Regions from separate parts of the Homo sapiens genome. Here regions 2, 3 and 4 are each linked to region 1. Evidence: fine-mapped expression QTL. A gene starts in region 1. Each other region holds a variant in brackets. All regions are shown on one strand. Distances are between the middles of the regions.

Region 1 (8,110 bases):
TATTCTGTGACTAACCATACAGCTATTTTATTTTCCCAGAAAATATACCACTATGAATGAGGAGGGAGTCCACAGTATACTATTGGTACAATTAAAAAGTATCAAATAAAGAAAACTAAGTAAAAATAATTTTCCAAATGGAATTTCTTATGGCAAGAATCCAAAAATAATTCTATGGCTACAAACATAAGAACACTAGGAATTATTTTTCCTATACATTTCTCACTGAGATCAGATAACCACTGGCAGTTTCCTAGGGTCTTCCTGATGACCTCCAGTTAGATATTTATAACTACAACATGACATGTTTATACTATCTAAAGCAAGAATAGCTCATTAAATTCCTCATCCATCAGTTGTTCCTTAAAAGTAAAGCCACTAACTTTGATGAGGTTATTTTACCATAACAATAATGAGTACAGAGGGAAAAACCTTCTCTCCCACTCTACTCTCTGGACCCAAACTGTTGACAACTGTTACACCATTCTAAAAGAGTGTTTTAATGTCAAACTAAAGCCTCGATCCACTGTACAAGTAGAACAACATATAGGTCAATGGGCCCAATTTTCATAACAGTACTATTTGCACCTTAAAACCTAAAGCAACCCTTACAGCAATTCTTAACACATTACTTATATTTCCCATTATGTGTTTGCCTACCCTATCATTTCTTAAGACTTATTTTATTATCTATTATTCAACATATGTGATTTAAGCACAAATTATTCACCAAATATTATACCACACAATGGGTATAAAATGAAGAAAACTAATGTCAAAAATGATGGTGACTAATAGTCTTCCTGCATCTTATTAACTGGCATCATCTCAGAGAAATGCAAATCAAAGCCACAATGAGATACCATCTCACACCAGTTAGAATGGCAATCATTAAAAAGTCAGGAAACAACAGGTGCTGGAGAGGATGTGGAGAAATAGGAACACTTTTACACTGTTGGTGGGACTGTAAACTAGTTCAACCATTGTGGAAGTCAGTGTGGCAATTCCTCAGGGATCTAGAACTAGAAATACCATTTGACCCAGCCATCCCATTACTGGGTATATACCCAAAGGACTATAAATCATGCTGCTATAAAGACACATGCACACGTATGTTTATTGCGGCACTATTCACAATAGCAGACTTGGAACCAACCCAAATGTCCAACAATGATAGACTGGATTAAGAAAATGTGGCACATATACACCATGGAATACTATGCAGCCATAAAAAATGATGAGTTCATGTCCTTTGTAGGGACATGGATGAAACTGGAAATCATCATTCTCAGTAAACTATCGCAAGAACAAAAAACCAAACACCGCAGATTCTCACTCATAGGTGGGAATTGAACAATGAGAACACATGGACACAGGAAGGGGAACATCACACTCTGGGGACTGTTGTGGGGTGGGGGGAAGGGGGGAGGGATAGCTTTAGGAGATATACCTAATGCTAAATGACAAGTTAATGGGTGCAGCACACCAGCATGGCACATGTATACATATGTAACTAACCTGCACATTGTGCACACGTACCCTAAAACTTAAAGTATAATAAAAAAAAAAGCTGGCATTTAAAAAAAAACAAAAAACTGGCATCATCATCTAACCAACTTTTCAAGGTAGAAAACCATTAGTCAGCCCTTAAACCTCATTTAATATTACTCCTTACATCCAATCCATCAGAATATCCTGGTTCTACTTCAAAAATGAATCACTTTCCTCCATGCCACTATCTCTCTAAAGCAAAGGCTGGCAAACATTTTCTCTAGAGTCAGTTATTAGCTATTTGTTACTTTAGATTTTGTAGGCCATACAGTCTCTTGCCCTTGTAATGCAAAAGCAACCAGACAATACATAAACAAATGGGCACAGTTGTGTTCCAATAAAACTTTATTTACAAAAAAAAGTGTCAGACCAGTTTTAGCCCACAGGCAGTAGTTTGCAGACCTCTGTCTTAAAGCATGCCACCATCAACTTTCCCTAAATTATGCCTAACCAGTCTCTCTGCTCCCAGTCCACCTATTTAGCGTAGGGTACCCATTATTCTCTATCTCATCATTTTATTGCCTCTGTAGCACTTATCATAACATTTAATTATCATGTCCACTGGTTTTTTGTCTTTTCCTTCCAGTAGAGAGTAATTTCCTTTCCAAGAAAAGTTTGTACTGTTATAAATTTTATCCCCAGGACCAACACAGAGTCACACAGCAGACATTCAGTGAACATGCGAATTTATTACACATTCTTTTTTTTTTCTTTTTTTTTTTAGACAAGAGTGTCTCTGTCGCCCAGTCTGGAGTGTCATGGCACAATTATAGCTCACTGTAAACTCCAACTCCTGAGCTCAGCCATCCTCCCGCCTCAGCCTCCTGAGTAGCTGGGACTACAGGTGTGCACCACCATGCCTGGCTAAATTTTTTATTTTTAGTAGAGACAGGGTCTCGCTTATGTTGTCCAGGCTGGCCTCAAACTATCCTCCCGCCTAAGCTTCCCCAAAGTACTGGGATTACAGGTGTGAGCCATGCGCCTGGCCTATTACAAATTATCAATCTCACAAATCCTTGATATCTTGCGAGAAAACTAAAAAGTACACCAACATATACATAACTGTAAAAACTGCATTGGAAGAAGAGTGCTATGAGAAGGGAGTATTGAGAAATGTAATTTAAAAGGGAAAGGGGTCTAAGAACTGTATCTCAGATAAGTGTACAGCATGTGCAAAAAAAAAAAAGCCTTAAGGGAATCACACAACTTATTGGAGTATTTTGGGTTTGAGTTCGGATAATTTCTAGGACGAAATAAATTCAGTTGAGTTAGAAATGGAATCTCTCAGTATCCAAACTACAGAACAACTGCTTAAATTGTTAAGATTTCCTGTTGGATTTAACAGGGAAATGGGTTAAGTGTCCTAAAATTTAATGAGTCGAAATCATTTGTTTTGGTTTAAACTAATTACCAACTCAACTCATTCTGGTGATAGGGTCTCTCTCTCCCTCTTTCACTCCAAAGGCCTCCTCAAGCATTCCTCAAGGGTGTTCCCACCTCGGGGCCCTGGAGCTTTCTGCTCCTTCCACCAATTTCCCTAAATACCAAGAGTGACTAGATTTATCAAAAGGAATGAGCCTCCCAGTCACAATATCCACTCGGCAGCTTCATCTATTTTTAGCTGCCAGTCTCCTATAGGTATTTATATGTTTGGTCCCTGAATTACAGCGTCATCAATTCCTAGACCTCAGAATTCAGGCTTGTAACTTGCCCTCTCTGAACTTTAGCTCTGAATTCATCTATTTAATGAGATCGATATCTTCCTCAAAGGAAAGCAAGTAAACAATCAGCATATTGCTGGGCTCAGGAAAATCACTCAATACCTGGTAGCTTTTGTTATACAGCACAATTATTAATGAAAACTACTCATTTGGGTGCCAGAAGGCATCCCAGGTGACTTGTGGTAGATAATCACACCTTCTTTAAACCTCCTATTTAAGGCAGAATATAATGCCCTGACTCAATAGGCAATAAAACTCAACTGAACTAAATATCTCAACCTTCATTTATCTACTTACAACAAACTTCTGCCATTCACTAACAACTGGGGCATACAAGAATAAAGAATGAAAATAACATTTACTGAGTGCTTAATATGGGCCACACGCGGGGTCACATAAATACTTTGCGTATTCCCCACGTCATTTAATAATCGCAAGAACCTAGTAATGAACCCAGTTTTACAGATGAGGAGCCTGCCCAAAGTTGCTCAGCAAGTAACTGTCAGAGGCAGCACTAGATCCCAGGGGCTGACTCCCGAGTCCAGGTTCTCAACACTGAATCGGAGATTTGGTTCCAGGCCTGGAGGGGTTCACAATCTGCAGCTGTCACTGAAGAGGATCTACAGGGCAAAACCCCAACCCGAAGGGCACCGGCAAGAACTGGTCCAACGCGACGCAGTACACAGGCCTCTGCGTAAGGGGCGAGCGCGGAGCTGGTACCTTTGCCTGAGGTTTCCGCGCGGGGCTGTGGCGCCGACGGATCCATCCGGCCAGGGGGAGGGGCCGAGCCCGGCTGCATGTAACACCCGGAAGGCGGCGGAGGACAGCAAGGTGGCTGGCCGGCAGGCCAATGGCGGCCAACGCCACTTCCGGCCGCCCTCCGAGCATCGCTCTTCGGCAACCCGAAGCCACAGGATGGAGGAGGGGGATCCCAGCAAAGGTAGCGACTAAGGGGACCCAAGCAGAACGGGAGGGCGACGTCCGGAGCGGCGGCAGAGCCAGGGGACGCTGTGTGAGGCTGGCAAAGCGGTGTTCACCTAGTTCTCTCGGGCTCCGCCGCCGCCGGAGGAGGACAGGAGGCCGGCAAGGCGACCCCCAAATCTTCCTAGGCTCTGACTTCCGTCTCCTAACCCCCGCAAATTCCAACCCGGTCTTGGAAAATCCCGCGAGAACGGGCTCCCGAATTGTCATTGGGATCTCGCGAGAACGAAATCTTCCTTTCTGTGGGCGGAGCAATCTTCCCGATGTCTCTTCCCTCTGAGGCCAGTAGCAGGAAGGGCCTCGGGAGTTGCGAGTGTCGCGAGGTTTGAGGTCGCTCGGTGGGCCGGGCGCTGTGCGAAGCTAGAAATAACTGGGGGCATGGAGAATGCGGTGGCTGTAAAGGGCCGCTGAGGCGGTGGAGGCCTGGCAGAGAGCGTCCCCGCGGTCGCGGCTTCTGGCTTCTCTGTGGAGCTTGGTTCTTCCGTGGTGGTGCAGCACCCCAGGAACTTCAGGAACCAGTCCTTCCTTGGAGAGCTCCCCGGGACAGCCACGGGGGCCAAGTGAAACTAGCGCGTTTTCTTGGATCCTACACTTTATAGTGAGTCATAAATACTTTAAATACAAAGCCAACAACATTTGCTGCAAATAAACGTAAAAATACTGTTAAAGTGTAAAGTGTTTTCCTCCGTACCATCTGACGTTTCTGGCGGTTCGTTGAACGCGAGAGAACGCTGAGCCGTCTGCACTGAGCCCGGGAGCATCTTCAGGGCAGCGCCGCCCACGCGCGAGGTGAATGAAGGACACGGCCTCTTGACACTCCCAGGCAGCACAGATAGACGGATCCGTAAGTGGCTCCCGCGCATGTTAAAATTTGTATACTGTAAGGTATTTCATGGATTGAGTGAAATACCTGACAGGGCCTGTATCCGTTCCCTATTGCCACAATAACCAAAAACCACAAACTTTGTAGCTTGAAACAGCACAAATTTATCATCTGACAGACAATGCATTTATTATCTCACGGTTCTGTAGATCAGAAGTGCTACCTGGGTGTCACCCGGGCTGCACTCCTTTCTGGTGACTCCACAGGACAATCCTTAGCTTGCCTTTGCCAGCTTCTGTCCACATTCCTTGGCTTTGGTCCCTTCCTCCATCTTCAAAGCCAGTGATATGCCATCTCTCTGAACCTTCCATCCTCAAGTCTACCGCTGATTGCAGCTGGAAAAGATTCTGAGGGCTCACCTGAGTAATCCAGGATCATCTTCCCATTTCCAGGTCTCTGCCCTTGATCACATCAGCAGAATCCTTTTGCCATGTAAGCTAATATATTCACGAATTCCGGAAATTAGGAGATAAACATCTTTGGGGGATCATTATTCTGCCTACAGTAGTGTCTTAAGAAAACAATATGGCTGTTTGCAAATAGATCTCAATTCTATGGCAGATACTAAAAACTAGTAGTATGTGTTCATAAAATGCTTCATTTAAAATATGACTTGTTTGCTTACCAGCAGGCAATAACTTTAAGCCTAAGTGAAACATCTAACTCAGCCATCTATGTGTGAGTTGTTGGCCAGATCACTTCTCCGTGTTTTATTGTACTCACCTATCACCATTACAGTGAAGCTAATAATAGTAAACTACCTAAAAATGGTAATTGTAAAAAATTAGATAATTAAGTAAAACTCCTAAAACAGTAGCTGGTCATAGTAAGGAATATATGTGTTGTTATTACTATTATTATCAATGGAATGCATCCACTTGAAAGTTGCATTCTACATAGCCATTATGTCAGTTTAATATTTTGGCTAATAGGCCGGGCGCGGTTGGCTCATGCCTGTAATCCCAGCACTCTGGGAGGCCAAGGTGAGCGGATCATGAGGTCAAGAGATCAAGACCATCCTGGCCAATATGGTGAAACCCCGTCTCTAATAAAAATACAAAAATTAGCTGGGCGTAGTGGCACATGCCTGTAGTCCCAGCTACTCAGGAGGCTGAGGCAGGAGAATCGCTTGAACCCGGGAGGTCTATAGAGGTTGCAGTGAGCCGAGTTTGCGCCACCGCACTCTAATCTGGCGACACAGCGAAAAACACTACTAATTATAATTGTAATTCTTGATTCTGACATGCACCCTGATATTGGAAATCTTAAAATCTAGAAAAATCTGCTGCTTGTTATTGATGGATTATATCTCTTTTCACATTGTCTCTAAAATCAAAATGGCAAATTGAAATTTTAATCAAGCTTCTTTTTTTCCCCTACAACTACCAGGGAAGAAGTTTGATTTTTTTCCCCTCTCTGAAATGACTAGTTGTGTAATTTTGTCTTATTTTTCCAGAGGTCCATTGAGTTAAGATGTAGCTCTTGACAGAGCAGACCTCTTAATAGAAGTGATAAGCAAATTCAGAAATAAATTTTGATTTAAATGGGAGGTATCATCTGGTTGAAGGAATACCCTTGTGACTAACAAAAGAGGAGGATACCTCATTTTCTTTTTTTTTTTTTTTTTTTTGAGACGGAGTCTCGCTCTGTCGCCCAGGCTGGAGTGCAGTGGCGGGATCTCGGCTCACTGCAAGCTCCGCCTCCCGGGTTCACGCCATTCTCCTGCCTCAGCCTCCCAAGTAGCTGGGACTACAGGCGCCCGCCACTACGCCCGGCTAATTTTTTGTATTTTTAGTAGAGACGGGGTTTCACCGTTTTAGCCGGGATGGTCTCGATCTCCTGACCTCGTGATCCGCCCGCCTCGGCCTCCCAAAGTGCTGGGATTACAGGCGTGAGCCACCGCGCCCGGCCCTCATTTTCTGAGTGTTTATTATTTAACCTCACTGCTGTACTTACAGTGTATACTGAAGCAGAAATAATCATGACATGAAAATATGTCCTAGTGAACTAGTTGCCTCATAAAGTTAGACATTCTCAAATATTCCTTCCCCCAGTAGCTTTTGTCTTTGCATTGACATCCTTGTCTAGGTGCTGATATTGTGAACATCTAACGCTGTCAGACCAGTCACTTCAAAGTTAAACTGAATATCTTGTAAAATATTAAGGAATTCCTGTAGTTAATATGTGTGATGTTGGATAAATCACATGAATGAACTGAATCACATACAAAACTTTTGGCAAAGGAGGATCTAGCAAAAATTAAGCCAATTAAAACTACAAAAGAGAAAAAAATAACACAGATGGTGATAACACAGGCATTTCAAAACAGGCTCATGGAAGGATGATTAAACCCACCAATAATTTGCCAAAAAATAGTCTCTCTTTATCTTCACACTGCAAAAGTCAAATATATATCTGTATGTGGTTGACAGATCTCCAGAATTGTGAGTTAATCTAGCAAAAAGGCTCCAGAAAAAAATAGATATGAAACTCTAAGACAACACAAGAAATTAAGTCTTTTGAGTTTTAGTTAGATGATTTTAGGTTGCAGCATTTCTCCCTTCATACGTCGTTCCAGCCAATAAGGAAGCAAAGATGAGTGAAGGCAAGAGAAAGAAGATAAAATAGACCTGTCCTTCCTTGCCACAAATAACCTAAATCTTAAAGTTTAAAACTCAACGTTGCACAACAGTGTGAACATACTTAACACTATTAAACCGTACACTTAAAAATGGTTAAGAAGGTACATTTTATATAATATGTTCTTTCTTATCACAGTTTAAAAAGCAAAACACAACAAAAAAGCTCCGGCCAAAGAAAGGAAAATTTGAGGCTTGAATGAGGTATAGTGAAAGATATATAGAGTCAGTGTTAGAAGTATATCATGGTCCCATATAATGAATATCATTACACCTTGAATATTCACCAACACCATTTTTACTTCATAGACTCAATAAATAGACTCAAATAATAG
Region 2 (8,110 bases), 53 kb before region 1:
AATGTCCTGATTGAAAGTTCAGTGCTCAGTAGAAACTGAATTTTCTCCTTTGGAAAACTGCTTATTAGACATACCATGAAGATGTCATAGAGACTTGACTGAACTCTAAGAAAAGAATGAGGTGGGATAGGGAGAAAGTATTAGAAAGGATTAAAAAAATGGATAAGTTAGGGGATTGGGTGGAATTTAGACAGCAAAAAAGCAGAAACGAAGTTAAAGGTTTCTATGTTGAATAAATCTAATCAACTGTTCCAGTTACCTTCTTGATGGCAAGGTCAGGCATAACCATGTATGATGCCATCTCAGATGCCATATATGAGCCACAGATAAGATCTCTACTAGTTGAGGTAGCAATCTTCCAAGAGATTCTGAAGTAATAACTTCAGTCCTTGCTGAAGAAGCAAAGCTCCCTTTAAAGAAGAAGAAAAAGGCCCTAGACTCTCTCTCTCTCTGCAGATGAGATAATTCTCCCTTTGATGATAATACAACTCAGAAACCTAAACTTTAAAACTTGTCACTCTGTTCTTACATGGTTAACAGCAAAGGGTTACTTGTTAAGCAAAAAAAATTTTAATATTGCTCTTTTCGAACTGAGGACTGGTATTTGAGACACTTAATGAGTATGCAGGCTGTTTATTCCTTAGGTCTGCCACATGCTCTTCCTGTATCAAATAAGTATATCAGAAAGTACACCTTAACTACATCTTAATGTTCTACAAACATGTCTTTGATGAAATAAGTTTTATTATTATGTATTAAGTATTATAAAAGGTCAAACGAAGTATCCATTTGAACAATGCTTCTAAGAAAACCTAAATAAATATAAAGAGATACCATGTTTATGGATAGGGTGGCTTCATACCTTAAAAACTCCAATTTTCCTCAAACTCATTAATAAATTCATTGATTCTCCAAAAACAAAAAACAAACCCCAGGAAAAATGCCAGATGATCATTCTTTAAATAAACTGAATGAAATGACTATAAAAAGCTAGAGTTTAACACACTGATGTTCTAAAACAAAAGGTAACTCCAAAAACAAAAGAGGTCAGAAAGCAAGAAAAACTTTAGATTAAAAATGTGATGGCAGAAATGGTGGCTCACACCTATAATCCCAGCACTGTGGGAGGGCGAGGCAGGTAGATCACGAGGTCAGGAGTTCAAGACCAGCCTGGATAATATGGTGAAATCCTGTCTCTACTAAAAACACAAAAATTAGCTGGGTGGGGTGGCACAGGCCTGTAGTCCCAGCTGCTCGGGAGGCTGAGGCAGGAGAATTGCTTGAAATCCGGGAGGCGGAGGTTGCAGTGAGCCAAGATTGCACCATACAGCCTGGGCCACAGAGTGAGACACTGTCTTAAAAAAAAAAAAAAGTGATCATTTCAAACAAAATAATAAGATCGAAAAATGACATTTCTCAGAACAGAGCAAAAAGACAAAGTCTGAGAGAAAAGTTCAGAGATTTAAAGAACCAATATAGTTTGAAAGTTTGAAAGTCTGATGACCTGGCATGCCAGAGGGAGGGAGCAGAGAAAAAGGAAGAAAAAAAAAAGGCCATTGTTAAAGAAATAATAAAAAAGCATTTTCCAGAGTTGAAAAAGAACATAAGCCTTCAGAATACAAGCCTACTGTACCCAGCACAAAAAAATGAACGAAGATCCACACCAAGACTCAAATATCACCGTGAAATTTTAGAATAGTGTAGATGAAGAAAAACTCTTACGAGTTCCCAAAAAGGAATGAAAATCAGATTGGCACTGCACATCTATTTAGCCACACCATCTATCAGAAAACAATGCTGCAAGCCCTTCAAAGATCTAAGAGGAAATGATTTTCAATTTAGAATTATATAGTTGGACAAAGTATCAATTAAGTGAGAGAGCAATAAAAGACATTTTCTGTATTTACAGATGCAGAAAATTTACTTCCTATATATTCTGGCTTAAAAAGTTACCAGAGGATATTTCCTAGGAAAACAAAGGGGCAAGTCAAGAATAAAAACAGCATGGAACCCAGGAAAAAGATCCAACACAGAAGAGCAGTGAAAGAAAGCTTCAACATGACAGTTCTTTATCAGGCCTAGAAAACTGGGCCAGATTGAAACTAAGGAATAAAAGTTTCAGGAGGCAGGTTCAGGATACAGAGGACTCAACAGAAGAGAATGTGTGAATGAGAATTAGTAACATTGAGGATTATTACAAAGGGCAGAAACAGACTGAGAGGGGGAAAAGACCGAAAAAGTCATGATTGAAATTTGAAGTGAACTGAACAGTGCAAACATAAAACATGGATGAAGTCTTAGGAAAGAGAAGTCATATGAGGTTGATGTTAAGACTGATCTTGCATTGACCAAAAGGTCGTGAACATTAAGAAAAATTATCTTAGCACTACTTGCCCCTGCATTAAAGATGTTTAGTTTATAAAAACATAGTAATGTAAACGCTTTTTTGCCTTCAAATTTTAATGCCAACCTATGGACAATAACCGGTTACTGGTACAGGGCTTATTGAAAACATTAATACCCTTGACAAAGTAAAAGTTAAAATAGTTAACATAATATGTATAGGTGACAAAAGTAGAAGGGTGGGTGGGTGTGTGCTAATGCTAATACCACACATTACAAAGACTTAGAAGGCATGTGGAAAGTTAATGGACCAAACATCAAAACTTGAATCATTTTCCAGTAAAACATGGCGGCAAACCAAGAAAGAAGAAGACACGGGATCCAGGAAAAAGATCTAAGAGAAAATTCAATGGATCTAATGCAGAAGTACAAAGATTGAAAGTTACAAAAGTAGTTTATAGACAAATAATTTTAAAATAGCAAACACTGTGAGAAAAAAACGGGGAGAGAGTAGTGAAAGTAGCCTAATCATCTTTCTTAAGAGAAGTTCCAACTTATGTAAAGTTGATAAACTAAAAGATAATGAAGACTTTGTACTCTGGCAAGATAATGGCTAAGCCAATGTGAAAACATTTCTGTCACAACATATTAAATATAAACCCTTGCAAAATGATAGAAACTAAACAAAAACTGAGCTTATGTGTCTTTTGCAAAACACAGCTGAAGAATGTATTTATTATATTACATAAGGTTCCTTATATAATGACTTATGAAATAAATTACTCAAATTGTCACAGAAAAATAGGAATCCAAAACTTTTTCCCTTGTCTTGTCAGGATGCCCAGCAGAAGCCAAAGCAAAACCACACAAGCAGAAAACTCCTACAACCGGTCTCCAAAGGATTTCCAGAGGAAAAAAATCCCATTGAAGATAAGCTCAAAAGAAAAAAAATGACCAAACATGAAGAAACTATCAACCATAAGCAAGAGCCAGAGGAAACAACAAATAGAAGGATCAGCACCACCAAGTACAGGAGTTAATAGAGCAAAAATGCCATCCAAAAAGATGTTTTTCGAAGTATGATTAAAATTAAAAATTCAATGGATAGGTTAAATAGCAGTTTCTGACAGATAGAGGTGAAGGGGTAATTAGGAACTTTATGGAGGATCTCAGCAAATGAGCTGGAAGTGAGCAGAAGAAGGATAAGAGACTACTGCTTGTCATTATAGAGTCTATTATTGGAACCATTGTTTAGTGCATCTATCAACTGGAAACACTTTAAAGTTAGAATGCTTATATGTTTTATGAAATTTAATTGACCACAGTATTCTATGTCATTTAGTGCTCTGTATGTAAGGACGCATGAAAAAAATTACTTCTTGCATTCCTTTATAGGAAAATGGGAATCCAAAGCTTTTCCCCATTTGCCTTAGTGGTAGGAATTCAAGAATAATTAAAGTGCTCAACAATGTTGGCTCATTCATAAGTATATTTTATTCCTCATTTTAAGTTAATTTCTATTCTGATTTAATTTTTACTTTGTGCATTTTATATATGTTTATTTTTAAAGTCCATTGAAATTCTGAAAGACAGTGGGAGTGAATCTATAAAATTCTTATTACACAGGATGTCAAAAGTTATTGATCTGTTCCTTCCTAAAATGGGATTAATCTTACTTAGGTGTTTATGTTGATTTAAATCTTTTCAGAAGTGTGTATATTCTCTAAAAGGTCTTAAAGGGATATTCATACATAGGGGTTAGAACCAATTTACCTTTCATAAAAACTCTAACTGCAGAGCTGCTCCAGTTGAGATGAGGTAGAGGCAGAGGAGGGAAACGTGAGCCCCTAGCCCCAGTGGGCTCTCAAGGGCTCCCTGACACAGTGGGAAAACTGCTGCTACAGTGAGTCTCAGTTATCCAGTTAATAAGAAGTCTGATTATTCTCACCAGGAGACTTGGGTCAAAACACTACCATGGAAAATTCATAGGAGGAAGTATCAATTTTTTTATTGTTACCTTTATAAACCCAGACTTCTAAGAGGAATTCAATGTTGATAAAGGAAATGAGAGAAAAGCTTAGCTAAAACTTAAGACATTGAAATTTCGGTCATAATAGTATTTTTGCTG[C/T]TTCTAAATAAGCATAGCCATTAAAAATTAATCCAGTAATAGTTTTAAAAATTATGCTAAATCTCAAAAACAATTGGATAAAAATCTAGTTATTAAATTTAATTTTCTTACATTGTAGAGACAAGGCAAATGTTAACATCTTGTGTACTGTTGAACTCTTTTACAATCTTGAGTCTTTCCTCTGATTTTGTACTTCCATCAAGTCGTCGGTAATCAAGCCCAGACGCCATACAGTACTGCTGTAGCACGTCAAGCAACTAGACGAGAGGTATGAAGATGGGCAAACATGAATCTTGGTTAAGTAAGTTTCAGACCATTACAAAGTTGAGACTTGTTAAGTATTAATTATTGGTGTTCATAATTTCTTTCTTATAATTCCAAGAACAATAAATATTTTTCTCACTTCTGACCCATATATTTATTCCCGTTATCCTGCAACATTATGGCTTTAACATTCAGAACTTGTTTTAAAAATCAATCTTTTCATTTTTAAGAAACAAACAATATTACTGGTCAAATCATTTACATAAATATATGCATGCTATTTTTTAAGTTCTAAAATATATGAAATGTCTTAAAGAACATTGTAATTATTAAGAACATCAACAGAAAATAAAAATCTATCTTTGAGTTTGATATTTAGCAACCCTGAAACAATTGAAATTTTAGTGTCTGTTTAAAAACTTCAAGTTGCTTACCTCACTATTTCCTACTGTGTAGATAAGAGAAAATGTGGCTGTAAGGTGTCATGTAGGCATATGCTTTATTCTTTATGCCTCAAAAGTTGAGGCTGGCCAATCAAGGATATACTTTAGATGAACTCACCTTGGTGGAAAAAGAAAAGAGAAGAACTTTATCTCTGTTTTTCCTGCAATGATTTAAAAGCTGCTGAAGGACCTGAAAATGAACCACAGAAAATCAGTGAACCAGTTCCAACTAAAAGTACACTTTATACATATAAACATCACTTGAGAATTTCTTTAAAATTATTTTCATACAATACTAACCTCATTCATTTTTTCTAATTCCTTTCATTTTTTCCAAGTTAGAGAAATAAAGTATTAGCTATTACATCAAATGTTATTCATCATCATATTGTCAATAAGGAGGTAAAGTTCCCAAAGACTTTTATTTCATCTCATCTGGTTTTAATAAAAAGGAAGCATTTTGGATTATGGGATGCATTTAAATGGATTAATTTAATTTCCAAAATACACTTTCTTTATACCTACAATATGCTAAGAAACTAAATTATAGAGCAGCATTCCTTTTAGGAAGTATTTAAATTGTCCCTAGATGGATGTAATGAAATGTGTTCAATTACATCTAGGTTCTAAAAGTCTTGATATTTATTTTCTTAGAATAATCAGTCAGATACACACCTCTTCTCATTTTCTCCCCTTTGTTTCTCTATTTACAGTAAGCTCTGACTTCCAGATTTGATTTTGACCTCAAAATGCCAGTAATCTGCCCCCACACACAGTGCTTTCAGGGAGGAAACAAACAGTCCAAAGCCTTGTGTATAACAGTCACACTGTTACTTTTATTTCCACATCTGGCAATGACAGCTCCAGAACAATGTGGAAAAGCAATCCACAGAGGGGAAAAAGAAATTTTCTATACAAAGTCTAAATTCTTCTGAAAGATGAAACAAACACTAAAACAATTTATTTAATGATAAACATTTAAGCTTTTAAATAAAAAAAATACTCAATATAACACTTACTCAATCAAGAGAAGCTATTGTGCTAACTTTGACCTCTACCTCCCCCTAGTCCCTCAAAAAAAGCTATGGAGTTAAAAAAAACTTCTACTCAGATAACCAAATTTATTTATCAAATGGTAAATAAAAATGTTATGGATCGGGTAAACATTACTTTCACATTTGGAGAACATATGAAGTTTTATTTGCATTTAGTTCATTTTTTAATAAAATAACTGATTCTATATGAAGTATGTAATTTGAATTTCACATAAGACTTTTTAAATTGGTAGATATTATTTTTTCTGTTTTACAGAACTGAGTAGAAAATGCACAAAACTCCTCTTTCCCTACTTCCAACCTCCTCCACACTTTCTCTTATTAATATCTGTATTAATAATATTATTAGAAAATATAACATCAAGTATTATTAGTATTGGTGTGGTTTATTTGTAACAACTGATGAGTGAATATTGATACATTATTATTAGCTAAAGTCCATAATTTACATTAGGGTTTATTCATTGTGTTACATAGTTCACGGGTTTTGACAAATATATCATGACATGTATCTACCATTACAGTATCATACACAATTGTTTCATTGCCCTAAAAATTCCTTGTGCTTCACCTACTCATTCTTTCCTCCCCCAGAACCCATAGCAACCACTGTTCTTTTTACTGTCTCCATAGTTTTGCCTTTTGATAGTATTATATAGTTGGAATTATACAGTATGTAGCCTTTTCAGACTGGTTTCCTTCACTCAGCAATATGCATCTAAGGTTCTTCCATGTCTTTTGGTAGCTTGATAGCTCATTTCTTTTTATTGCTAAATAGTACTCCACAGTATGGCTGTACCACAGCTTTTTTAATCCATTTACCTACTGAAGGACATCTTAGTTGTTTCCAAGCTTTGGCAATTATAAATAAACTCATAGGTTCTTGTCGGGATGTAAGTTTCTAACTCATTAAAACTCAATAAAATTTAATTCATTATAACTCATTTGGGTAAATACCAAGGGGCACAATTGCGGGATCATATAGTAAGACTATTTAAGGTAATATTTTTTAGTTAAGAGCTTTGTGAGAAACCACTGAACTGTCTTCCAAAGTGACTATACCATTTTGCATTCCCACCAGCAGCAGATGGGGGTTCTTGTTACTCCACATCCTCACCAACATTTGGGCTTGACAGTGTTCTGGATTTTGGCCGTTCTAATAGGTATCTAGTGGTATCTCCTTGCTGTTTTAATTTGCAATTCTTTAATGACATATGTTGTTGAGCATCTTTTCACATGCTTATTTGCCATCTCTATTATCTTCTTTGGGGAAGTACCTGTTCAGATCCTTTGCCCATTTTTCAATTGGATTGTTTGCTTTCCCATTGTTGAGCTTTAAGAGTTACCTGTATATTTGTAAACCAGTCCTTTATTGTTTTGCTAATATTTTCTCCCAGTCTGTGGTTTGTTTTTCATTCTTAAGATATTAACATTTTAAACCAAGGATATATTGTATAGAAATCCATTCTCATTATTTGGGGTGGTATCATAACTATTGCAACTTTAAGTGTTTTCAAGTATTTTACAGTAAAAACAAAAACAAGTCACAGGAAAAGTAAATGTTTTTAGACTGGAGATCTTAATTAGGCTAGTTTAAAGAGACTAACTAAATGAACGACTATAAATTAAGATCCCAGAAATTTCCAAAATGACAATGTAATCAACAGATGTTGGAGTCTTAACAATATAGACCCAATGTTTTATCACTCAGTTGTCCTCCACAGAACAAGACAATCCACCTATAAAGGAATCGTATTATTTGGGGGTGTTAACAGCAAGGAACCTTGGATCTTAACTTTCCTCAACTTGGTCAGTCAGGCCTAGAAAGATGAACATGACCCTTGTGTGACTTCAGCAGCACCAAGCTGGATTCCTGT
Region 3 (8,110 bases), 99 kb before region 1:
CCTTTGATGAAAGTGACTATGTATAAACAAAAATATCACAACAGCAATTTTAAGTGGGAAGAGCCCATAGGAAGTATTTATGACTTTTAACAGTATAAAAACCCTTTTGCTAAAAATATAAATTCTATATGAAATGAGTTTTCTATGTTGGTCTTCATTTTAGGTGAAAAATTGTGGAGCAACCTAATCACACACTTTCCTTTTTCCATATAAGCAGAAATGGTTTTGGTTCTGATTGAACTACATGATTCCCTCAGATTCCTTTTCATTTTGGGAGTACTGGCCAATTTTTATTGAGAGAAACTATTAAGCAACTCAACATGATTAGGTATTTGGGTATAAATTTGTTGTTTAATCTAAAACGTCTTCAATGACTACAGTTCCCAAATGGTGTTTTGATTTTTACACTTATTTGTATGTCACTTACAGTTTTTGTTGCTACTTTTGAGGGAGTACTTAGAGAAGATCCTATTGAGTAACTTCTGTGAAAAATGAGGTAACTAAAGATGATACTACCCTATATTTTTCTTACCTTAGAACTGCAAACAGCTATGTTAGCAGGCAGCTGAGAAAACTGCTTCAACTCAAATACGTCATGTGCTGCCCATCGGCTCATGTGATTTTCAGCTTTGCTCGATCCAATTACATTCTGGTTTGAGTGAATATAAGCCACTTCCTGAACGCCATCTAGGAGGTAATTTATGTTTATTAAGTGATGTATCAGTATAAAGCAATATGGTTCCATAAAAACACATTATTCTTATTTTTAATACTCAAGAGAAACATCAACATCACAATATTCTTTAGGAAAAATATTGAAAAGAGAAAGAGTTCAAATATGTTAGTCTGGGTTACCTTGGAAATGACTTTTCCTTCTCATCAATGTGAGATGAGAACTACTGATAGGTAACAATCTTTAAACCTGAAATGGAGGTTTTGGCCAAAAGAAAAGTCAGGGTTGAGTAGGGTCCTCTCTATGAATTTGTTTTCATTGTTAATTAAAAAAAAAAAAAGATGTTCACTAATTTAAAGAATGAAACTAACCTTATCTGTTCCTTTAAACATGTACTTGATTACAGTGATGGAATGAGAGCATGGGGTTTATGACCAGGGAGTTTCGTTTGATTGGCTTTGCTCAGTTTTACTGTTTGTATTTTGTCTTTTTTGTACATATGCCCAGAGAATGTCAAGATGAGAGCTTTTTAGGAAATGAAAAAAATTAACTCATGGCTTTTATCTGAAAGAGGTTTAAAAAATGGCTACAATTTTTATTGCTTTGCTTCTAGGCACCTATAATTCATTTTTGAATTGTGATCATAAAAGAGAAAGCTAGAACCAAGGCCTGTAAAAGCTCCCTGCAACAGCTCTGGCAATGAACCTCAGGTATGACCTTCAACAATTGTGCTGTTTTAGTCCTGAACCTCTTCAATCAGAAATTGCCAATCATGCAAACACAAAACATTGTTAAATAATATGATGAGACAGTAACTAGCATAACATTCTCCTTCATTTCAGAATACCAGGTACTATACATGGCACACAGTTTCAAAACCTTCATGGCAGAAAATTTACTCAGATGTTTCTTAATTTTGATGACACGTTACCATTATTCAAAATAGCATTAGTTCCAAATTAACTACTGACACCTTTTACACAGTAAAAACAAACAAACAAAAAACTGAGTTGATTATTTAAAAAAGTTTATGCAATAATTCCTCAAACCTAAAATCTAACTGTAGCACACCAACCAAAGGGTAATTCAGTACTTATTTATAATGACACCAAGATATAAATCATAATTAACTCTTAAACGAGAATGCTAATAGCCACAAAGAAAGCCTCATTTGTATATAATCAAACACAAAAATTAAGATTTCTATAGCAAAATGTCCTTGCTTATATCTCAGCTTCTTTCATATAGTTTTTGGGGAATAAGTCAGACACTTGTGAAGGCAATGCTAACTCTTAAAATCACCATACAGATTCTGGGCAGAGGGTGGTAACAGCAGAAGAAGCAGGAGAATCTCTGAATCTGTACACAAAAGCAGACAGCAACTAGACAGCAAAACCAAAAGCCCATGGACATTTACAACAAAATTAGATAACAAGATACCCTCATGACACCTAAAGTACAAGCAGGTGGGGAAAATCTCCACTAGCTATGAACTCTGCATGGTTTCAGTATCTGTGTGAAAGTAGGAAGCAACAGGGTACCTGACAGACCTAAGAACAGGAGACCCCAGAACTGCCAACAGGTATTCACCGGAAAGCACAAGGGGCCAGCTGGAGAACAGCAGCTGAATCTGGGAAGGTTTGTTGCTCTTCAATGCTGAGAGGGTGCAGAGGGGACACAGTAAGAAGGCCTGGAGGGGCTGGAGCAGGCCAACCACTAGAACTCCCCAAACTGACCCACCAGGGCTCCCACCCAGGTCAGGGCCCAATAAAGAGGAAAAACTGCTGGGAGAGAATCAAAATAAGTAGGATAGGAAGAACAAGGATGAGGGCAAGAAAAGACCTAGAGCAAAGCAAGGGAGAGAGAGCGAGAGGAAAGCCCACCACAGTGCAGCACTCTACATGGAAATAACATACGGATCTCTGTGAGGTGAGAAAAGATTTCCTAAGCTCTGCTTCATTTGTAAAATTCAGGGGAAATAATTTCATATAAAAATGACCAAGGGAAAAGCAGCAGGGTCAAATCTCAAAAAAATTATTGTGAGAAAAAAGAGAACAAGCAGAGTAATATCCCTTCAATGAAAATGTGCTAGAAAGATGTGCTCACAAAACAGAAAAAGACATGAATCAACGTAAATCAGAATTAGAGCAACTCAAATGAGTGATAAGAACTTAGGAAAGACTTAGAAATTTTTTTTTAAATTTCAAAAATGAAGACTAAACTAGAAGGAACATAAGTGGGAATAAACACAACAGATAAGCCTTAAGAGAAACAAAACAACATTTTAAAAAAGCAAAACAAAATGAACAGATAAAGATTTGAGAGAATGTGACAAAAACTGAAGATAGGCAAAGAAGACTGAACATCTGAAAAGAAGTCCCTGAAGAAGAAAGCCAAACCAAAGGAATAGAACAAGTAACTAAAAACACTGGTACAAGCAAATCTTTCCCAAAATAAAATTTGAGTGAAAACAACACTGTGTATATCAGAATATGGACCCAGGATAACCAACATGAAGACACAAGCTAGTAAAATTATTGGACAACAATGAAAAGAAAAAAACCCCCTGGGCATCCAGGGAGAGGCAAAAAAAAAAAAAAAAAGAACATATAATACCACACTTTATGCCAGAAGAAAACAAAGCTACATATTTAAGATGCTCAAGAAAAGACAATGTGAGCCAAGTATTTTACATCCAGCAAAACTTTTAGGTATAAGGGCACAAAACTGTTACTGCAAGAATCTCAGGGAATATTATTCTCATGAACACTTCTTGAGCAATCTACTAGACAGTAAGATTCAGACAACCAGAACGATGCGAGGAAGACTGACATTAAGGACTGATGGGGAGCATGAAATGTGTAGTTACCTGTGGACCAACAGTTAAGTGAAGTCTAAGAGGGGAGTAGTATACAATGCAATGTATCTTTGACAATGAAGACATAGTATATCCATTTTTAAAATGGAAGAAAAGGGAGAGTAGAGGCAAAAACAGATAAACCCTAAATGTTACCAGCAATCAAATGGAGGTAGTACTGTTATTTTATTCTTTGTGTAATATGGGATAAAGCAAATGAGCAAACATGGGGCATTAAAAGTAAATCATTCCCTATATGCTTGAGAACCAGAATTATCAATATTGTAGAAATGGTATTCACATATAATAAAGAGGCTAAATAAGAGCTCTATACTCTCAAATTAAGTATCAATACAAATATGGACGTATAACCTCGAGGTATTTTATCATCACATATGTGTACATACATATATAAAATATATATCACAAATATACGTATACATACACATATATGTGTATAAATATAAAATACACACACACACACACACACACACA[A/CAAAA]ATCTGGCCACTGAAAAGGCCCAAAAATAATAACCAAGTCAACAGTAGCAATGTTCATTACTAGCACCAGACTGTGGTCTTGAAACACACTTTCTCTCTAAAAGAAACCAAGACTTCTTGGAATAATGACTGATTGTAGGTCTGGGACAGAAAATGTATGAGGTGTTCCTGGAACCTCTTGTAAGACTAGACTACAAGGAAGCTTCCAAAATGACTAGCAGCATGCCAAAATGCTTCAGGAACCAAAATATTCATGTCAGAGATTCCCCTCTATCCACAGATAGGACAATGGAGCCTTAATAATATTATTAATTGCAATGAATTGAGACCCACTAAATGTGTTTGAATCAATTACTAAGAAAAGAATGGGTCATCCTTATGGCATATAGACATATTTAGTTTAATACTAAAAACTGGTAAATAAAGAAAGCAATTAGCATTTTTCCTGTCTCTCCCATATGAACTGCGCCACTGGGTAAGCAATAATGAAGGGAAGTAGTGAAGTACCTCTTTACAAAAGCATTCTAAATAAATGAAAATGAAATCGAAAGAAAGAGAAAATATTTTGCTACTCTGAATGAATAAATAAGTATAGGTATTAAGTATCAATGGCTGCTAGGATCATAAAGAGAGAGAATAAACATTTTGTGCCTACTATAGTCTTGTTAAACACTAACTTATATCTTGCCAAAGGAACTGAACCTGAGTCTGATCCAGTCTCAGGAACCAACTGCTCTTTTGCAGGTAATATAGAAGACAGAAGAACATGTTTAACTGCATGGAGAGGGTACAATTAGCAAAATGCAAACTGAGGGAAACTCTGTAAGAGATGGTCCAGGTACTTCCATAGTTACATTGTAAGGCAATGAAAGGGATGAGGATTCCTGTAGATTAAAAAAGACTATATAATATTTTTACAAAATGGATGAGACTGAACCATAATACCTAGTGATATGGTTTGGCTGTGTCCCCACTCAAATCTCATCCTGAATTGTAGCTCCCACAATCCCCATGTGTCATGGGAGGGACCTGGTGGGAGGTAACTGAATGATGGGGGCAGGTCTTTCCCATGCTGTTCTCATGATAGCGAATAAGTCTCATGAGATCTGATGGTGTTATAAAGAGGAGTTCCCCTCTGCAAGCTCTCTCTCTTTTCCTGCCACCATCCATGTAAGACATGACTTGCTCCTCACTGCCTTCCGCCATGATTGTGAGGCCTCCCTAGCCATGTGGAACTGTGAATCCATTAAACCCCTTTTTCTTCAGTCTCAAGTATGTCTTTATCAGCAGCATGAAAACAGATTAATTCACCTGGGGATGCACATTTGGTGATAAAACCATATAAATGTAAATAAGTAATTACTATAGAGGCTAGAATAATTGGTATTTATGGGGGCAGAGGAACTGTGATTTAGATGGGCACATGGAGGGGGTCCTGGGGTAGATGGCAACATTCTCTATCTTGACCTATATGTGGTCTCCCATTTATCCTGCTACCCAACCGTTCCTTATTTGTGCCTCAATGCAGCATCTTGATTTTAGGGCTGTTTTACAAGTTAATTCAAAGCGTCTCACAGAACTATTTGATAAAACAAATATACTTTTTAAAGTTTTGAGAATGTGTCTTTAGTTACCTAAAAATTTATCCATTGATTCATACGACTGCTCTTGATTAACAACTTTCTCATTTGAACATTTCATTGGTTTTCTTGGAATAAAAGTGCTATTTTTCTTATTATGGCTAGGCAATTTTGAAGAAAAACTAGTTCTGTCTCTTATAGTTCTTGGTCTGTGGCTCTGTTTAGAGAAACTGAAGTGGCTGACGGATAAACTCTCATCTGAGGATGAATAATCATCAATAAACTGAGAGTTATGATCCTCATTTGCTGCATACACTTGGTTTGTTTTGTTCATTGTTTTGGGAGAATTGTGAAGTTCTTTTTTGGTTTCTTTTATTCTCTTAAACCTCAATGAACTAGCTCTCTTTCTTACTCTTGACTTGGAAGAAATTTCAATGTCATCAGATTCATCACTGATATCACTGGTGCCTTTTCTTTTCAAAATAGATTTCAGGGTTGTGTTCTCAGGACTTAACTTTTTTGAAATTATTCCATTTCTTTTGTCATCAGTGTTTCGACTATTATCATTATTTCTTGTTTTTACAGTGTGTTCTGTTTCAGAATCCTCAGATCCTTCCAAGGGTGGCTTAAACCTTATACTATTGTCGGGGAATCTCTCAGTTGTGTATTGTGTAGGACAGATGACATCACTATCTTCTGATTCTGTGACATTCTGTAAAATGCAATGTTTATCTGTATTTTTAATTTTTTTCTCGTCAGACTTGGAAGAAATATTCTGTTCTAAAATCTTCTCACTTTTATAAAAAATATGCTTTTCTTTTGGATTTAGGATGTTATCTAATTTCTGATGTTTTGAAGTACCAAGAGAGTCCTGATTTTTCTCACAACCAGCATCTTTGGCTTCTGTTGAAAGGCATGTGGGCTGCTCATCAGAACTTTCATCATCAGAGGCAGTATTTCCATCACTATCCTCAACTGCTTTACATTTTGTTTCAAGCAATTTCGAGAAACCACACTGGAGTAAGGTAAGCTGTCCTGGAGAGCTGGAAGCTTTACTTGAATCGGGTGCTTTGTTTTTGGCAGTCTTTATTCCTGTGGCTCCCACTGGCTCTTCATCACTGAAGTCACTGCAGAGATCACATGCTTCCTTTGCCAGTGGCTCTGCAGCTTGTTCTGTACCTCTGCATTCCTGACAGTCAGGCTGTCTAGGCTATAGGAGAAACAATGACAAAAACATCAGAAAACCTCAAGATATAATGTGGAATCAACTGAAAAGTACTCAACTTTGGGCAGGTAATTTAGGTACAAGTATATCACTTAATATTTTCTAAAAGTACAACATTTAATAAACAAATGTTAAGGATTTAATATCATAGTCTGGTAGTCTTTTCTCTTTCCATGTTGAATATTGTTGCAAAATAAAAAAATTTAAACTAGAGTACCATATAATCAAAGTATTTTGAAGAAAAACACAAAGTGGAGTGTTTGGCTTCTAAGATGCAAGGACACATAATTCTGGCCTCGAAAGTGAAAAGCATACAACTTACTGCTTAAGAATTACTGGAGTTTACTGTCATCTAGCAGATGCTTCCAATCACGCTTTAAGAATAAGACAGATTACAGGAGTTAACAAGGTAAAGAATTCAAGACTGGAAAATTGTTCTAATTGATTAAAAAGGCCGATAGGATCTTGATCACCAGAAATAAAGAATTTTGAAGTAAAATTTGCTACAAATTTAAATTCAATATGTAACCTTTGCACATTAATCAGAGTTAAATATAACCTAGTTTTCTAAAACTGAGGCTCTACTAGTAAAATATTGCGGAAAGTATTATCTGATAATACTTTTGCCAATATTTGAGATTCATATATTTCTCTAAATTTATAGAAATTTCATCCCCAATTTAAACTCATTGGACTGGTATAAATTGATAGTTAAGACTCTAAAAACAAACAAGAAAAAACCAGCAACAATAACAAAAAAACCTTCCACACATGTTTTTTACCTTTAAGATGGCCTTATGATGAAATAAAGATTTGGTGGTACATGAGATGACAAGCTACTAAAAAGATCACAAAATTAAGGAATCAAATATCTACTTTCAGGTTAGAGAATAATTTTGATATTTGGGTTCAATAATTTTAAATACACATTGATGGTGATTTTTCCATTTAACTTACCATTTAGTCAAAAATTATTTATTTGGGATGGGTTAGTTATCTAGGTGGTACTGGATTTACAGTTTGGTGTAGTTAAAATTCAGTTTAGCTGTAAATGCCTGAACTGCTCCTGAATTTGTTCTTATAATATGAATGTTAAATCAGCCTTAATTATTAATTTTATCCATAGTCCTCTGACTTTGTGTCCTTGACTCTTAATTTTTTTTTTTACAGGTTATAAAATTAAGGAAAAAGGAAAAGAAACAAAATTGTCACAGTACATGTTTTCTAGGTGTTGTAGTCTACAGGTTCAAATATTACATACCATTTCCAGTTTGTGTGCT
Region 4 (8,110 bases), 66 kb after region 1:
ATAGAGTCCTCTCCATTGAGACTAAGGAAACATGCTATGTCATGTAGCCACAGCAGCCTTTGCAGCTGTTGAAGGCAGCAAGACTTGCATGGCAATCAGAAGACACAGAACCAAGACTCATATCCAGTTATAAGATGGCAGATGGGACACACACTCATCAGGCTTAGTGAGCAGCCAATCCAGAGGGAACCATACTCAGCCCTAGGGGCTGGGCGCGGTGGCTCTCGCCTGTAATCCCAGCACTTTGGGAGGCCAAGGCGGATGGATCACCTGAGGTCACGAGTTCAAGACCAGCCTGACCAACATGGAGAAATCCCATCTCTACTAAAAATACAAAATTAGCTGGGCATGGTGGTGCATGCCTGTAATCCCAGTTACTCGGGAGGCTGAGGCAGGAGAATCACTCGAACCCGAGAGGCAGAGGTTGTGGTGAGCTGAGATTGTGCCATTGCACTCCAGTCTGGGCAACAAGAGTGAAACTCTGTCTCAAAAAAAAAAAAAAAAAAAAAAAGCCCTAGGAAGATTTCTTCAAACAGATGAAGCTAATGATATCCCCAGTGTGTTTGAATATATTGAGAGATCACACAATAGGGACACTGTTTAGGGTTGAATTAATAGCAAGCAAATGGGATGCTAAGGAAATATAAAGAATAAAAGTTCAAAGGGAAAACAAAATGTTATTCAAGAAAGTCAAAACATCCATCGTAACTTTTTTTTTTTTTGAGACAGAGTCTCGCTCTGTCACCCAGGTTGGAGTGCAGTGGCGTGATCTCAGCTCACTGCAAGCTCCGCCTCCCAGGCTCACGCCATTCTCCTGCCTCAGCCTCCCGAGTAGCTGGTACTACAGGTGGCTGCCACCACGCCCGGCTAATTTTTTGTAATTTTAGTACAGATGGGGTTTCACCGTGTTAGCCAGGATGGTCTCGATCTCCTGACCTTGTGATCTGCCTGCCTCAGGCTCCCAAAGTGCTGGGATTACAGGCGTGAGCCACCGCGCCTGGCTCGTACACTGTTTTATATACCACTTGCAGTATCATGATTGTATAAATACTAAATATCTATTGATCTATCCAAAACTACAACATAAGTATTTTTGGAATATGGAGGAGTGGGTGCTGAGTATGCATGGGAGAAGGGAGGCTGAGGTGAAGGTGGGAGAGAAGGAGACAGTGAAATATTCATCTTCCAAATTGGAAACTCAAATAGATAATGCCTAAACATGAAATATCAATAGAAATGTAATATTTAAACATATGGTGGTGCTTCTGGGAAAAAGAAAAGAGGATGGAGAAGACTGTTTGTTTGTATGTTTGTTTGTTTAAACAAGCAATATGGATGAAATTACAGGCTAAGCTGCTTTAGCAAAAAGACACCAAAATACAGAAGCTTAAATGAGGTAGGTATAAGTTTCTCTGTTTGATATGATCTCAAGAGAAGCAATCTGGGTTGGAAAGTCACCTTTATGATCCTCAAAACGTAGCTTCCACCTGTGGGACTAAGGCAGCCATTCTAGTTTTGTCTTCCCAGCCAGAGGGAAGGAGGACAGGGTCAGGAGAGCACATGTGCATAACTGATAGGAACATGCCCCAGAAGGGCCACACATCCATCGGTCAGGATGTGGGCATAAGGACCACAGCTGCATGGGAGGCTGGGAAGCATAGGGTCTAGCTGTTAGCCACGTGCTCAGCTAAGACACTGGAGCCCTGATATTAAAGAAGGTGAGGAATGATGCTAGTGCTCAACCAGCAGTCTCTGTCACATCAGCTTTGCAGAATCATTTGATTCTTTCAACTAGGTGCATATACAACTTCAATACAAATGAAAACTAAATATAAGACATGGTTCTTAAAAATCATCTTTTGTACAATTGAGGACACAATCAAAACCCAGACACCAGGGTCCTGAAGCAGAATGCAGGCATCCACAGAAGAGGCGGTGCTGATGGACTGGACCCCAGAGAGTCCACACCTGCTTGGTGCCATACCTTGGGTCCCTCCAGATCAGGATGCTCCCAGCAACTTTTCTAGGATGGTTATACTGCACATGCTGCAAAGATGAGTGGGCATCCCTGCAAGCCTATGGTTTTAGAGTAAATGGTTCCAAAAGAAGGTATGAAGCAGACCCATAGATGGGGATTAGTGCATAGGAGGTTTATTGGGGAGTACTCTTGGGATCAACATCTGTGAGCAACGAGAAAGAAGCAGGATTGAGCAGGGAAGAAGGTGGGTGTTCTGGAGCTGAGATCAAACTTCAGAAGTGTTGTGGCAAGGGGGCCCAGTATTGGTGAGTCTTTCAATGTGACTGCTCCAAGAACTCACAGCTTGGGGGTGTCATCTCAGGTGAAGTTGTTGTGTTCAGCCTGGGCAATTCTGGAGAGGCCTGACAAGTGAGGCCTGCCCCTGCAGAACTCCTGGCAGCTCAGGGAACACATTTTTCATTCCTGAGATGTTGCTTCACAGCATCTACTCTGTGTGGATCCAAGGAGCTGCCTCTGGGTCTCTGGGAAATCAGTCGTTTGAATTTGGATTCCAGCGTGTGGCTCTTACATTTCTTTTTAGGAGAAATCCAATAGTGGTGCTCTCATTATGATGACAGAGGGGCTGGGAGGTGCCAGGGGCCCAGCAGGGAAGTGGCAGGAGTACAGCAGCATACTGTGTAACCTGGGCTAGGTTTTTACTCAAGGTGGCTTAGGACAGCTTTTGAAGATTACAGGGAGAAGAACCTAAAATATAGGCAAACCAGATGATAACTACCCTGCTTTCATCTGTGCCTCAGGGTGATTAGTCAGCATTTGTTGGTTAACATGTCAAGAACCCTGTGATTTTGTCAAATATATATTTGGTCTTTGACTCCATTTTCTGACATACAACTCCTAAAATCCTTATAATCTCCAAAGTGATAGTGTCTTTTTGTATGCTTATGAGTTGACTAGTGGCTGACAGCCTCTATGTAGCTTCAGGACAGGGACTGGTCACAGGAAAGACCAAGGCAGCATTAGAGGGTCGGGACTCTTAGCCCCCTACTCCCACCTCCAGGAACCAGAGAGGGTGGAAAGGTTGTTGACCACCAATGGCCAATGATGTAATCAATCCTGCCTACAGAATGAAGCCTCCATAAAAACCCAAAAGGACAGGGTTTGGAGAGCTTCTGCATAGCTGAACACACGGAGCTTCCTAGAGGGTGGCACACCCGGAGAGGGCATGGAAGCTCCCTACCCCTTCCCCCGTATCTCCCTCTAAGCATCTCTTCATCTATATCCTTTGTAATACCCTTTATAATAAACCAGTAAACCTATGTTTCCCTGACTTCTGTGAGCCACTCTAGTAAATTAATCAAACCCAAAGAGTGGGTGGTGGGAGCCCCAATTTGAAGTCAGTTGGGCAGATGTTCCAGGGGCCCCAACTTGTGACTGGTGTCTGAAAGGGAGATCAGTTTAGGGTACTGAGCCCTTAACCTGTGGGATCTGAGGCCATCTACAGGTAGATAGCCTCTGAATTTTTTTTTTTTTTTTTTTGAGACAGAGTTTCACTCTGTCGTCCAAGCTGGAGTGCAGTGGCTTGATCTTGGCTCACTGCAACCTCTGCCTTCCAGGTTCAAGCGATTCTCCTGCCTCAGCCTCTCAAATAGCAGGGATTGCAGGTGCATGCCATCACGCCTGACTAAGTTTTGTATTTTTTAGTAGAGATAGAGTTTCTCCATGTTGGCTAGGCTAGTCTCACACTCCTGGCCCCAAGCAATCCTCCCGCAAAGTGTTGGGATTACAGGCATGAGCCACAGAATTGAATTGAATTAGACACTCAGCTTGTGTCTTCTGCTTGGTGTCTGGGGAAACCCCCACATTTTGTCACTGAAGTCTTCTGTGTTCACTATTTTTTTTTTTTTTTTTTTTACGTAAGAGCAGAGGAAAAACTGTGTGAGTTTAAGTAGTTGACTCACAAACCCTAATCTTAATTTAGGTTCCAGAATGGCCCAAGGCAAAGGTTTTAAATAGTCCTTCTCCATCTGCCCTAGAGGGTTTATTTGTTATCACAGGGGTTGTTAGAAGGAAATTTTCTTTGAAGAAATGAGTGATGCTAAGGCATGTAGTTGGCTGAAGAGACTTCCACTGGCACCTCCTCCCTTGATCTGGCAAACCCAGCAGCTGACCACCTTTGGAGTGACAGAATCTCTCTCTCTTTATGGATAGAATTCTGTCCTATGGTCCCCACCTAATGGAGAGCCACCTATGTCATCTCTGTCACCTACTCTGATGTTAAAATTTTGTTGTGACCACAACAAAGTAAATATTTCCTGCAAGATGCTTTCCAAAGTACCTAAAAAGACAAGAGAATGAGAGGAGGAGGTTGCATGGCTATTTTTGTACTTACCTCCCAATAAATGTTC[G/A]TGTGTATGAGGCAGAATTTGGTCTGAGACTTGCTTTCATTTAAAAACAAGTCCTGGTGAGGTAGTGGGAGGGAAAGGACCTAGACCTTCACCTCCTTCTAACTGCTAGAGGCTACCAATATTTTTTAAAAGAGCCTGATATTTGTGAATGGCTAAATAAGCCCAGAGATTAAGAAAGTAAATGATGCCTCATATTCTTGCTGGTTACATGTTCCAACAATCTGAACAGTAAAGATACCTGAAAAAAATGATTATCAACACATTGGTTTAGTGCAGTGATTGATCATAAAAGATAAATGATCCAGCTGTAGAAATTGGGAATATGATATATGATAATGATAGCAAGGCAAACCTAACCTGATTATTCTAGATATTCATTTGTCATTTACATGGTGTCTGCTACTGGACTTGGCTTTGGGCAGGCTCAGGTTCTAGAAGAGTCTTTCATGCCCCCAGTGATCTGTGGCATGGCTATGGACAATCCCTGGGTTTAACTCCTATGTGTGAAAAATCTAGAGGATTCTAGTGGCCGAACATACAGAAAAGTAAATCCAAAATCTAATCTTGCTTTGATTTATGTGGTTGGAAGCGGGGAGGTTTGGGAAATGCAGTCAGACAAAAGTCATCCCATCTAAATATTAAATGCAAGAGAATTAAAAGGAGACAGAGAATAGAAACCACTGTCAATATGTTGCGAATCTGACAACTCTGGGATTAGACATGATTTTCCCATGTTCCCTCACACAAACCCTCCATTCAGGCCAGGCCTTTGCTCTTTCTATCCCCAAGAGCTTGCCCACCAATTTACACCTTGGCTCATGAAACCTAGGTTGCCCTCCTCTATTCACAAACTCTCACCACCCTTCAGCTATCCCATCCTCATGTATAAAATGCCTCCCCAACTCCTGTTAGCCAGTGTTGATCTCTTCCTGTAAACTCTGTTAACTTTGCCACTTATATATTTCATACTTTTTCTTCTTGAGATTCTAAGTCCCACAAACATTTACTGGGGCAGGCGGACCTTGTAGTCTTGTGAGACTATGGACAGATGAGGACTGTCCATGGTTAGACATGATTAGTGAACAATCCTATACTGGGAAAACACATGCTTAAATGGGACAATACTGAAGTATTATTTGCTGCATTCTGGACTTCTTCCCTTAATCTGCATTTTTTTCTGGGCAAAAAGCCAGAATGGCCCAAGGCAAAGGTTTTAAATAGTTCCCAGGAAGCCACATTCAGACTGCAAAGGCATCCTACTGAAGGGGCCATGGTGTTCAGAAAGGTAGATGTCCTCTGGGTCTTGCCCTGACCCCAAGCACAAGGTCTTTCCCCTTCTGGAGTCCCTGCCGGGTCTCTGCTCAGACGTGGTCTGCCCTGCAGCTGTTGGGCTGGGAGCTGGAGGGCAGGCAGGCAATGGGTGGAAATCAGGGGAACGTTTCTCTTCAAAAACTGCTGTTTGAAGGCAGAAACCAGCTGTGCACCTTTCCTAAGGATTCAGGATGAGGATGTTGGGATTTGAGAAGATAGAAAGATCTAAGTCAAAAGCCATTTGAATAAGGTAGAAATATCTTTCTCCTGAAAGGAGGCTAAACATAGAGACATACCCCAAAGACATGAGAAAATGAGAGTCTTTATACTTGGTGAAAACAAGAAATGAAAGATGATGGAAAGATGCATGCAAATTATCTTCCAGCTTGCTCTTTTGAAGATGCTCGTCTAAAAATAAGATCACGTGGAGGAGAAATGACATGTCTGGTGCTGAAAACAACCCTACTGGGACCAGGAGATGTGGAGCAAAATGTATTCAGAAAGAGACTTTGCTCTGGAAACCATTGCTCACTGCCCTGCTGCCAAGGTCACAGAGAGCTGGAGCTTTGCTGCTGCAAAGCTGTTTACATACAAGGATACACAGGAACGAAAGGTCATGGGAGGTACTTGAGCCTGGAGTCTCCAAAGTCAAAAGACAATAAACACACCAACTTTCAGGGCTTTTAACAAGCACAATCGGGCCAAACAAATTCTCACTTTGGATGTAGATCCACAACATCTTGCAGCAGACGGAAATAGGACTGGGGCAAGAGTTGGTACAAACAGAAATACTAAGTTTATCACGACCAAAATAGGCAATGGAGGGTAAAAGCCCGCAACCTACTTCAAATATATCTGAACTGGTGTTAAAACTAAGCTAGCATTGAAGAGAGGGATAAAATTCAGGAGCAAGTTTCCAAAGAGACTCATAAGAACCCAGAGAGAGGAAAATCTTTTTCAGAAAATTCATAAAAGTTAATGAGTCGCCATTCTGATGTAACGGAGAGAACTTCAGTAATATGACCAGTGATGGAGTTGGTGTGAAATGCATAGACTCCACTATGACCTGACCGGGTATTTCCTCAGCAAATATTTGGGTATATTTAATTGAAATGCATTTGTGGCAAAAGTCAACTCCTACAAAAAAATTGTTAAAATATTCTTCCTGGAAGTTGTCTCCCAAAGTGACTCACATCAAGTAGTCTGAATAAATATGGTGAGACTTGGCACCCTCTGAGGCATCATTTGCTAGGAAGAAAATGCTTTTGAATATCCTAGAACTCTTGGAAAACTTACAGAACCATTGGCCTCATGCAAGCCCATTGTCCCTGTCCAACACACCCCCACATCCCCTTTCCCTCACCATCAGGCACGAAAGTCCTTCCTAAGTCGCAAATGCAAATCTAACTGACTGGCTTCCTTCTTACAGACCAACCACAGCTACTTGTCTTTGAAATTCAACTTCAAGGAAGACAGAAAAGTCTATTTTTAATCAGAGAAAAACCTCAAATTGAGTGCGAATTACTGCCTAGGCCCTGTTGAATGCACACTAGAATCACTTTTGAGATGATCACTAATTTTATGGAGTGATATACACCAGAATGAACTTCTAGCCTGCTTTATAATCAATCAGTTAATCAACAAGTCTGAGTGGAGCGTGTATGCTTTGCGTTATCTGCAGTGCGGCCTGAGGTTACGGGAGAAAAAAATGGCACTGTGTATTGCTTGAATGCTCAGGGCTGCGTTCAACTAATTTTAACCATTGAATCAAAATGATCAGGTAGAGGGCAGGAAATGTAGAATGGCTTGAACAACTACCTCATGAAAACATGCAGTATGCGTTTGTAATTCAGCATCTTAAAATGTCTCTTTTGGCAGTATTTCTTTACAAATGTGGCAAAGCATGATATCTTTGAGTAAATTTTTAAACTTCACAAAAGTTTCTGAAAAAAATATGTACAATCAAAGAAAAACACTTGGAAATAAATTCTGTCTATAGTTTATGCACATTTAATGTATTTTCTCCTGAAATCATTATGCATCAACATTTTTTGAAATTTCTCTCTCTTAGCCTTGTAAAGTCCTAATTCTAGTTTATCACACTTTGAAACAACTTTCCTTCTTTTTTTTTGAGACAGAGTCTCACTCTGTCACCCAGGCTGGAGTGCAGTGGCGTGATCTCGGCTCACTGCAAGCTCTGCCTCCCAGGTTCACGCCATTCTCTTGCCTCAGCCTCCCGAGCAGCTGAGACTACAGGCGCCCGCCACCATGCCCTACTAATTTTTTGTATTTTTAGTAGAGACGGGGTTTCACCATGTTAGCTAGGATGGTCTCAATCTCCTGACCTCGTGATCCACCCGCCTCGGCCTCCCAAAGTGCTGGGATTCCAGGTGTGAGCCACCGCACCCGGCCCTGA

Evidence for each region.
Region 2: its variant is fine-mapped to the expression of ERCC6L2-AS1 in whole blood (INTERVAL, PIP above 0.99).
Region 3: its variant is fine-mapped to the expression of ERCC6L2-AS1 in prefrontal cortex (BrainSeq, PIP 0.95).
Region 4: its variant is fine-mapped to the expression of ERCC6L2-AS1 in fibroblasts (GTEx, PIP above 0.99).

What each region holds. Positions count from the first base shown.
Region 1 is chr9:95,871,967-95,880,076 of GRCh38, reverse strand. ERCC6L2-AS1 (ERCC6L2 antisense RNA 1) reads left to right here and starts at 4,100. Exons shown (of 3, transcript NR_023390.1): 1 at 4,100-4,212. It overlaps ERCC6L2 (ERCC excision repair 6 like 2), which reads right to left and starts at 4,386. Exons shown (of 19, transcript NM_020207.7): 1 at 3,993-4,386. The coding sequence starts at 4,038. RefSeq lists enhancers at 4,176-4,235, 4,296-4,525, 3,657-4,531, 4,666-4,765, 4,806-4,855 and 1 more.
Region 2 is chr9:95,925,337-95,933,446 of GRCh38, reverse strand. ERCC6L2 (ERCC excision repair 6 like 2) reads right to left here. Exons shown (of 19, transcript NM_020207.7): 10 at 5,297-5,368; 11 at 4,583-4,728. Among named protein-coding and RNA genes, the nearest start is that of ERCC6L2-AS1, 53 kb to the right of the region's middle. The variant C/T (reference allele first, on the strand shown) is at 4,472.
Region 3 is chr9:95,970,638-95,978,747 of GRCh38, reverse strand. ERCC6L2 (ERCC excision repair 6 like 2) reads right to left here. Exons shown (of 19, transcript NM_020207.7): 15 at 8,092-8,110; 16 at 5,660-6,815; 17 at 533-687. Among named protein-coding and RNA genes, the nearest start is that of LINC00092, 47 kb to the left of the region's middle. The variant A/CAAAA (reference allele first, on the strand shown) is at 4,026.
Region 4 is chr9:95,805,686-95,813,795 of GRCh38, reverse strand. It overlaps ERCC6L2-AS1 (ERCC6L2 antisense RNA 1), which reads left to right. Exons shown (of 3, transcript NR_023390.1): 3 at 1-7,708. Among named protein-coding and RNA genes, the nearest start is that of ERCC6L2, 66 kb to the left of the region's middle. The variant G/A (reference allele first, on the strand shown) is at 4,384.